Linked DNA regions of Homo sapiens: region 2 is linked to region 1. Evidence: fine-mapped expression QTL. A gene starts in region 1. The other region holds a variant in brackets. All regions are shown on one strand. Distances are between the middles of the regions.

Region 1 (4,396 bases):
ATTCAAGATGGAGTTGCTCTGATTTCAATGCCTCTGACACACTAATGTTAGAGCACCTTGGACATTTTCCTTAATCTGAGTGTCTAGTTTTCTTTTCTAGAAAATGAGAAAAAACTAGAATGTAGACCCCCATGTGCTCAAAGCAACAGCCTGCCTGGTTTGCTTGGACTTTTCCTAGACTGTATGATAACAGGTGCTCGATTCCTCTACGTAAATCTTCACCTTTTATTAATCATATTACCCTGCTTCTCTTAGAAAACGCACAGTTCTGCCCTCCCTACACCAAGATCACAAAAGGCTAAGTGTAAGTCATGAGCCAACCAGACCAAGAGTAACCCAGGCAGGCCAGGTGGCCAACTTGGCCATCTCATAGGCAGTTATCACTGCTCAACTTGAAGAAATACAAGGTTAATTATTGGAGTTTGAAATCCAGCAGTGGAATCCATGTGGTCCTATCGTGGTCATATAATGTGCTGAGGCTCTTACAAGTTGTCAGTGCTGAGTGGGAACGACAAAGCCAGAAACAAGGGCAAGCAGAGGTTGAATGCCAGGAAGACCGTGGCAGGGTGCCAAGTCCATGAAGCAAAAGCACCGCCATGGTCTAAAAGGCATAGTCCTCTAGAGCAACAGAGCCAGTAACTCAGATCCAAAGGAAAGAAAATGATAACCCTTTCCCCCTCAAGACTTGCCATTGTATGGCAGCAGGAGGGCTGCTTGCAAAATAAATAACCCACCAACATTTGTAGGTTGGAGATCTCTCAGTCAAGAGTGACAGGCTGTCACTGAAAATGGGTCGGAAGGAAAACTGTCATTCCTACTAAGCAATTTTAAATAGGCTTTGTTTCCAGATATCTGTGCCTACAAGTCCTCATTTCCTCATTTGGAAATGGGATTTGATATGGTTGTATTAGGAGGTAAAATTAAAAATATCTCCTTACATCCCATTCACACTGCTGCATGATGGAATTGCCAACCTTGTAACCAAAACACATGTCTTTCTAATAAGAAGTCAATGACACAAGAGAAAAGAGATTCCTGCAGCTAAGGTTTGCTCCTGGTATTTTCCCCATGATATCACCCAACACAATGTACACTCTGTGGGTGGAGAAGGATGGGGGGTGACTTTTTAGCTTGTATACTTATTTGAGAACCTTAAATGAGATGCCTATTAAACTATCCATGTATACAAATAGACTCAATATTAAGAAAAGAAGTAGTATAAGACTGAAAGACATGCTTAAGAGAAAGGAGGGAGCCATACTTCAGGAATGGAGAAATGAAGAAAAATCTATACTGGCTAAAGTCAGGTTAGCTAGGAGGGAACATATGAGGAAGGCCCAAGTCTTATGCTGCTAGAAGCCAGGGCAGAGGCAGTAGGCTGGAAAGGACCAGTGGTCATCTTGGAAATATGTGCTCCACTTGAAGCCATTTGGATAAAAAATAAGAATTCTTAGAACACTGGACATCCCAGAAACACGATAAATTAGCAGACCAAATGCCAGTCTGCAACTGCTGGTTAAAAAGAAAAATCCAATTACTTATAACACTGAATATAGGTCAGCAGAAACTCCCGGCATCAAAGAAACTCTGACCATAAAGACTTAGTGTATATTTTTACAAAACACTTCACAGGGCCTTGTGGATCAATCATGGATTCAATTTTGTTCTACAAATTAAAATCAAGCCATGTTTAAAGCAATCTCATTAAGTCGCTTGCCAACGGGTGCACACAGTACCACACTCCTGGTGTGACATGACCATTCTTATCATTCATTTTTGGAACCCTCCTTTCATGGATACACCACCCCTCACCTCACTTCCCTGCTTCTGCCTTACCTGTGCTTTCCCTGTGGCTTACCTGGATTATCACAACCAGATCCCCTGCAGTTTTCAGCCTTGCCAACATCTGAACATGTCAAAGAAAAATGGGCAGGACAGAGTTTGAAAGGCAAAGCCTTTATTCAAGGCTACAATAAGGGAGAGAGATTGAACTAACTCTGCTGAAACAAACAATGGGACGATTTTTAAGAGCTGGGATGAGCTAATGGAAAAGTACTGGAAGATGTTTGTGGGGAGGTTGGTCCATGTGATTAGGCATCTGTGTTTGCTAATGGGTGTTTACTGGAGTTAGGCTCCAACCCTTCCACAGAGACTGAGAGACAGAGACACTATTCCTTTCCATGATTACATTTCAAAGAGATGTCAGGTCCTTGAGAAAAGTGGTCCTGGGTTGCAAAACTAGCAACAGGTTGGAAGATTTACATCTCACAGGGACAGAGAAAGAATTTACAATTGCAAGTTTCTAAAGTAAATGCTTCAAGAAAAGAGAAGTCAAGGCCTATATTAGTCCATTCTCATACTACTGTATAGCTACTACTCGATACTGGGTAATTTATAAAGGAAAGAGGTTTAATTGGCTCATAGTTCCACATGGCTGGGGAGGCCTCAGGAAACTTACAATCATGGTGGAAGGCAAATGGGAAGCAAGGACCTTCTTCACATGGTGTCAGGAGAGAGAAGTGCTAGCAGGTTAAATGCCAGACACTTATAAAACCATCCGATCTCATGAGAACTCACTCACTATCAAGAGAACAGCATGGGGGAAACCACCCCCATGATCCAATCATCTCCCTCCCTCAATATGTGGGGATTACAATTGGAGATGAGATTTGGGTGGAGACACAAAGCCAAACCATATCAGGGCTCTAGAGTCTGAAAGAAGCCCATCTAAAGTGTAGTCCAGCACAGGGGAAGGTTATGGCCCTCTTGGTCAAGCCTATCTATCCTTAGGAGGTAAGGAAGTTCTTCTAGCCTTGCCTCAAACCCAGGGTGAGCATTAGTATATGGTGATTCTCCTGGTGGCTGAGCCACAGGCTCCAACACTGTTCCCCAGTCATGAGGCTCTAAACCACTACCCCACAGAGGCCCATTTCTATAATAAGGTCCTGCTCCCAAGCTTCCTCCTTTCTCTCCATCCTTATCCCTCCCCCTTCCCTGCCTGGCATGGTCTTGTAGCTGGAAGACGAGGCCTCAGCTCTGGGGTCTCATTTCTGCTTCACAAACCTCCATCAGCACAGACTGTCCCCATGTGGAGCCCAGCCCCCTGCTGTTATCTCTGAAAAAGATCTACTCAACTCTATAATCATTTTCGGCTACTGAGCTATTCGTCCTACAGAAATAGTAAATGCTATTTTACTGTGCATGGCCGGTGATACCAGCAAGCCTAGGACATTGGTCCCAGCGCCTATCCTGCCTATTGTCCTACTACAGGGACAACTATGACTATGCTAGCTGGAAATGATGATTCCTTGGGTACCCAGCCTGACTATGACACAGGCTGTCATAGTCATTTCCAGCAAGCAAAATAGGAACAGGAAGCTAAGAATCTCAAATACATTTAGAATGACCTAGTCAAATGCCATTTCTTTTTTTTTTTCTTTGAGACAGAGTCTTGCTCTGCTGCCCAGGCTGGAGTGCAGTGGTGCAGTCTCAGCTCACTGCAACCTCTGCCTCTTGGGTTCAAGCGATTCTCCTGCCTCAGCCTCCAGAGTAGCTGGGATTACAGGCACGTGCCATCATGCCCAGCTAATTTTTTGTATTTTTAGTAGAGACAGGGTTTCGCCATGTTGGCCAGGCCAGTGTCAAACTCCTGACCTCAAGTGATCTGCCCACTTCAGCCTCCCAGAGTGCTAGGATTATAGACCTGAGCCACCACACCCGGCCTACCATTTATTTGTGAAAAAAAAATAAAAAATTCCACTTACATGGGTTCCCCAGAGTCGTCAGATTCATAGAGACAAGGAGTGGAATGGTGGCTGCCAGGGGCCAGGGGAAGGGGAATGGGGACTTGGTGTTTAATGGGTCAGAGTTTCAGTTTTGCATGGTGAGAAAGTTCTGGAGATGAATGGTGGTGATGTTCCCACAACAATTTGAATGTACTTAACACCACTGAACTGTACACTTCAAAGTGGTTAAAAATTGTCAATTTTATGTTATGTATATTTCACCACAATGAAAAGAACAGCTCATAAGAAGGAAGCTGTAAATAGTAATAATAATAACCTGGAATTATGGTTTAGGGATTATAGCTTGCTTTCATGGTTAAAATGAGAGCCTGTAAGACTCAAGCTATGTAATAAAAATTCTGGTGGAGAAAGTATAGGTTAATGCTTGCTCTAGAGAAGGAGGCCTGACACTCACGGTGTCCATTTGAGCCTGTCCTAAATCTCTCTGGACCTCAGCCTCACCATACCTACAATGAATTGGCCTCAGATCTTCTGCTCTGATCTTGCACCAAGCCTGGGCTTGCAATCTGCGTGTCTGTGGACTCTTCAGGTATATTTCTGAATGCAGGTGCGTTTCTCTGGAGGCAGGGGCCATGACCTTCAGCAGATTC
Region 2 (4,396 bases), 30 kb before region 1:
TTGTCCACATCTGCTGGTTGTGGCACCCCATCCCTGGGAAATTTGCTAATTTCAAGGAATTAAAGAAAGGCCAGTGAGTCTGTAACTTCGGAAGGCTGAGGAAAGAGATAGAAAATGCAGGTAGAAAGTCAGGCAGGTCCAGATGGATCCTCTAGGGCCCTAGAGACCATGGCAGTCCTTTCTGTTTACTGAGACTGCTTTCTTTGGCTCTGGTTTCCTGGGACAGGAAGAGAACAGTACCCTGGACTGTGATGGGCTGTGACTGTCTAACTAATCTAGGATTCTGGAATTCACTAGCCATTCAATTTTATCCATACATTTTGTCAGAAGATTTGAAATATGCCCTTTACTTTACACTCAGGGCCATAGCTACATGAGCTATTTTAAGATAGTGTATTTCCTTCAATTGGGAGTTCTGTCTCTTTCTGGTTCTGCTTTTAATAATAAATACGGGGTCCAGTGGACTGAAATTAAATAGGGTGTGAAGAATTCCCCTACTGTTTCCCTTCTTTCCTACAGTTTTACAGGGTTGTTTGTATCCTTCAGCAGGAATATAAAAATACCCTGTATCTCCTCTCCTTTCGTAGTTTTTATTTTCTACGTTTCTCATAGTCTTTCCTATCCTACTATATATATGTGTGTGTGTATATATATATATGTGTGTGTGTGTGTATATATATGTGTGTATATATATGCCATATATAGAGATAGATCCATCTTCCATCTATTACTATATCTATAATCTCCCTATATATAAATTTGATACGTATATAATCTGTGCCATGTCTAGTGCTCTGCTATATTGCATTGATCCATTTGGCTATTGTGCACTAATTGCCCAATATTACTTTATGACATTTTTAAGTCTAAACTGAAAGGAAAGCTATGCTCAGTCATGTAATGTTGGCAACCATGCTGCGCAAACATGGGTCCCCTACATCAGGGGTCCCCAACCCCTGGGCCACGGACGGCCCCAACCCCTGGGCCACAACATCAGATTGTTATTGGAGCACAAATCCTATTGTGAACTGCACACACAAGGGATCTAGGCGGCACACTCCTTATGAGAATCTAATGCCTGAACTGAGGAGGAACAGTTTCATCTCCAAGCCATCCCCCACCTGTTCATGGAAAAATTGTCTTCCACGAAACCAGTCCATGGTGCCAAAGAGGTTGGGGACTGCTGCCCTACCTCACAGAAAGCGAGTGACCCCAAGAAGCCTGCAGAAGGGACTTGTCAAACCTTTGATCTCTTTCACCTTCCCACCAATACTTGAGCCCCTGAGGGCAGAGGCTGGCAGCCCTTGGCTCTGGAAGTCCTTCCAGGTCAACAGCTGGCCCTGGCCACTTGCCTGGAAGCTTTCTTCCCTGCTCTGAGGGGGCCCTGCTGAGAGTGAGCCCGCCTTCCAGGGTGGCGCAGGCCCCAGTAACCCCCACTGCGCTGCCTGCGACTCGAATTCTGTTAATCAGTTTGCCTTGCGTCTCCCAACACCGACACCCAGAAGAGGCCGAGGCTTGGCAAGCACTCAGAGCAGCTTCTGTGAAGCTACATTACAGGCTGAAATGAGCTCAGCTTTTAATTTGATTTTTTTTTTCCTGTAACAAGCAAAGTTCACATTACAGATAAATTGCCCGGAAATTCCAATTTAATAAGGCGTATGCATTTTTCAGGCCTAGAAGCATTGAAAACATCTTGCACGCTAGTATTTTTACACTGAAAGGTTTATTAAAAAGACAGCTTTGAAAATGTCAGAAATTTACATAGCGCGCCTGGCCGATTGGTCAAAAAGCCTGATTGGACAAAAGCGCACGGAAGCCAGGAAGCGGGAGAGCAGGCTGTTCCGTGGTCTTGAGCTGTTCTCCCTCCACATCGGGAACGATGGCTCCACCGTTCATTGTCTCCACCCAGCTCTTAGTTCATGTTACATGGGTGCTCAGCAAATGAGTGTCCGTCTGTCCTCCTCTGTCTGCAGGTGTGTTTCTGAGTAGGAGCAGCAAGCTGTCCTTCCAGGGCATCTGTGGGGCAGGCATACCTCCTTGAGGTCTCCCATGGGAGGAGGCACCAAACAAAATAAGCAAACTGGCCAGGTGCGGTGGCTCATGCCTGTAATCCCAGCACTTTGGGAGGCCAAAGCAGGTGGATCGCTTGAGGTCAGGAGTTCGAGACCAGCCTGGCCAACTTGGTGAAACCCCGCTCTACTAAAAATAGAAAATTTAGCCAGGCATGGTGGCAGGTGCCTATAATTCCAGATATTTGGGAGGCTGAGGCAGGAGAATTATTTGAACCCAGGAGGCAGAGGTTGCAGTGGGCTGAGATCGC[T/C]GCCACTGCACTCCAGCCTGGGCGACAGAGCAAGACTCCGTCTCAAAAAATAAAATAAAATAAGCAAACAGAGGGGAGCAGAAAGAGTCCTGTGAAAACTCAGTTAAATAGCACAGCTCTGGATACTTGATTATTTTTTTAAGGAGGAAAAAGAGTGAGACATTGTCCTGTAAAATCACCCAAACCCTGGCTTTCCCTGGAAATGTGGCGCAGGCAGGCCTAACCGTGCTGAGTATTGTTTCTGAGGACTGCCTCCGAGTTCATGTCTCTAAGCATTTTATTGAATACAACTGCTTCTTTGACAAGAAACAAGCAAACATGCTAATTGTACAACAAAATTATGGCATCATGGGACAAAAAAGGAATGACAGAGGGAGCATCAAAGAGCATTGCTTGTACGCCAAACATGAAAGCCAAATTTATTTAATTCAGTTTTTATTTATCTTCTAAACTGAGTTGAGTAATCAGGCAATAGAATGCGGTTCATTTAAAACTTTCATTATTTCAAATATGTTGAACCACTACCAATCACTCCTGGATCAACAGGAAACTTGCTACCTGATGAGTTGCCTTTTTTCTTTTTTCTTTTTTTTTTTTTTTTTTTCTTTGCTTTTTCCATCCCCATGATTGTTCCAACAGAAGGAGAAAAGATGTAATAAACCTTTACCGGGCACCGTCTGCGTCCAGGCACTCTACTCGGCCCTGGGGGTGCAGAGCACACCACCCCAGCCTTAGGCATGAAAAACACTGTGTACCGAGAAGCCCAGCCCCTGGAATCCAGCATGCTGGTGCTACATTCCAGCTCTGTCTCTTATTAACTGGGCCGCTTTTGACAAGTTGCTAAGCCTCTCTGATTCTTGGTTACCTCAACCTTAAAACAAGGATGATACCCACTTCATCAGGTTGTCATGAGTCACAAAAATAAATGTAGTGATGCTCTTAAAGGGTTTAGCACCAAGCTGGGCCCAAGGAAGCATTCTGTGTGTCTATTGACCAACTTTTACCTATCCTGACACCAAGGAGCTTAGAGTTTAGTGGAGATGGCAGAGCCGTCAGGGCCCGTGTTAGGCTCCCAAAGGCATTTTTACCAGTGCATGTGCCTCGCACAGACCTAGTGAGGTGATTAATTCTACTGGGAAAGTCACACTGGATGAACGAGAGGAGACGTATGAGTGGGGTCTTGAAACAGTAAAAATTTGCCAGGTGGAAGCATAAATGACTCTTTAAATGAAAGCCTGGTGTTTTTAAAGCAGTTCATTCTCATGAGTAATTCATCGCTTCTGTTTTCACAAAATAGTGAAAGGATCATTGCAGCAGCAAGGGCATGTGGAAGCCCTGCGTTCGCCTCATCCGTTCTCCCCATCTGTCCCCTGTCACAGTTGCAGCATCAAAACATTGTTCCCCTAGGCTCTGCTGAGTCGGATGTTTCTGAAACATTCCAGGGGACCGTGTGAGTCACATCAGGGAGGACACACAGGGCCATGACCCCAGTGAGCCATTAACACACCCATAGCCTGACTCTGCAACGGCTCCCCCGAGGGCGCCCCGCACAAGACCAAGCCCTTTGTGTCAGCTTCAGTTTGCCCTCACAGCTACCCCAGAACACCACTGGGACTGTCCCCGAGTCACAGAGGAGGAAGTAGAAACACAGAGAAGTAGCTTGCCAGGCTCACTGTTAGAACCCAGGTCCTTTCCTCTCCAGAGTCCATGACTCTAACACTCATGTGATGCTGGCAATGTGAACGGCTGGGGGGAAGCAGCAGAGGGTGACAGCAGGCCTTGGCACCAGAGATCCAGCCTGCGAATCCCAACCATGCCCCATATTAGCCAATGATCTTGGCAAAGTTCACATATCTCTAGGCCTCTCAGTTCCTCATCTGTAAAAGGGGAGGAATAATATTATCAACCTCCCAGGGCTGGTGTGAGGGCTGAAGGCATAGATGCTGGAAGCTCCTGGAGCGGTGTCCAGCCGGCGCAATGTAAGGCTCGATGCTGCTGCAGCTGTGTTACTATTAATATTAAAGGGAGGCTGCACCCCGAGGCTGTTTTAGGAAAGAACAGGCCAGACGCCTTCCA

Evidence for each region. PIP is the estimated chance that this variant, and not a neighbour inherited with it, causes the effect. A credible set is the group of variants that fine-mapping cannot tell apart.
Region 2: its variant is the best candidate, but not a certain one, in a credible set for the expression of CEDORA in caudate (GTEx, PIP 0.88).

The regions. Positions count from the first base shown.
Region 1 is chr16:83,770,951-83,775,346 of GRCh38, forward strand. CEDORA (CDH13 antisense oligodendrocyte and neuron associated lncRNA) reads right to left here and starts at 1,999. Exons shown (of 4, transcript NR_188499.1): 1 at 1,859-1,999. All of the region lies in intron 11 of CDH13 (cadherin 13), which reads left to right.
Region 2 is chr16:83,740,844-83,745,239 of GRCh38, forward strand. All of the region lies in intron 10 of CDH13 (cadherin 13), which reads left to right. All of the region lies in intron 1 of CEDORA (CDH13 antisense oligodendrocyte and neuron associated lncRNA), which reads right to left. Among named protein-coding and RNA genes, the nearest start is that of CEDORA, 30 kb to the right of the region's middle. The variant T/C (reference allele first, on the strand shown) is at 2,321.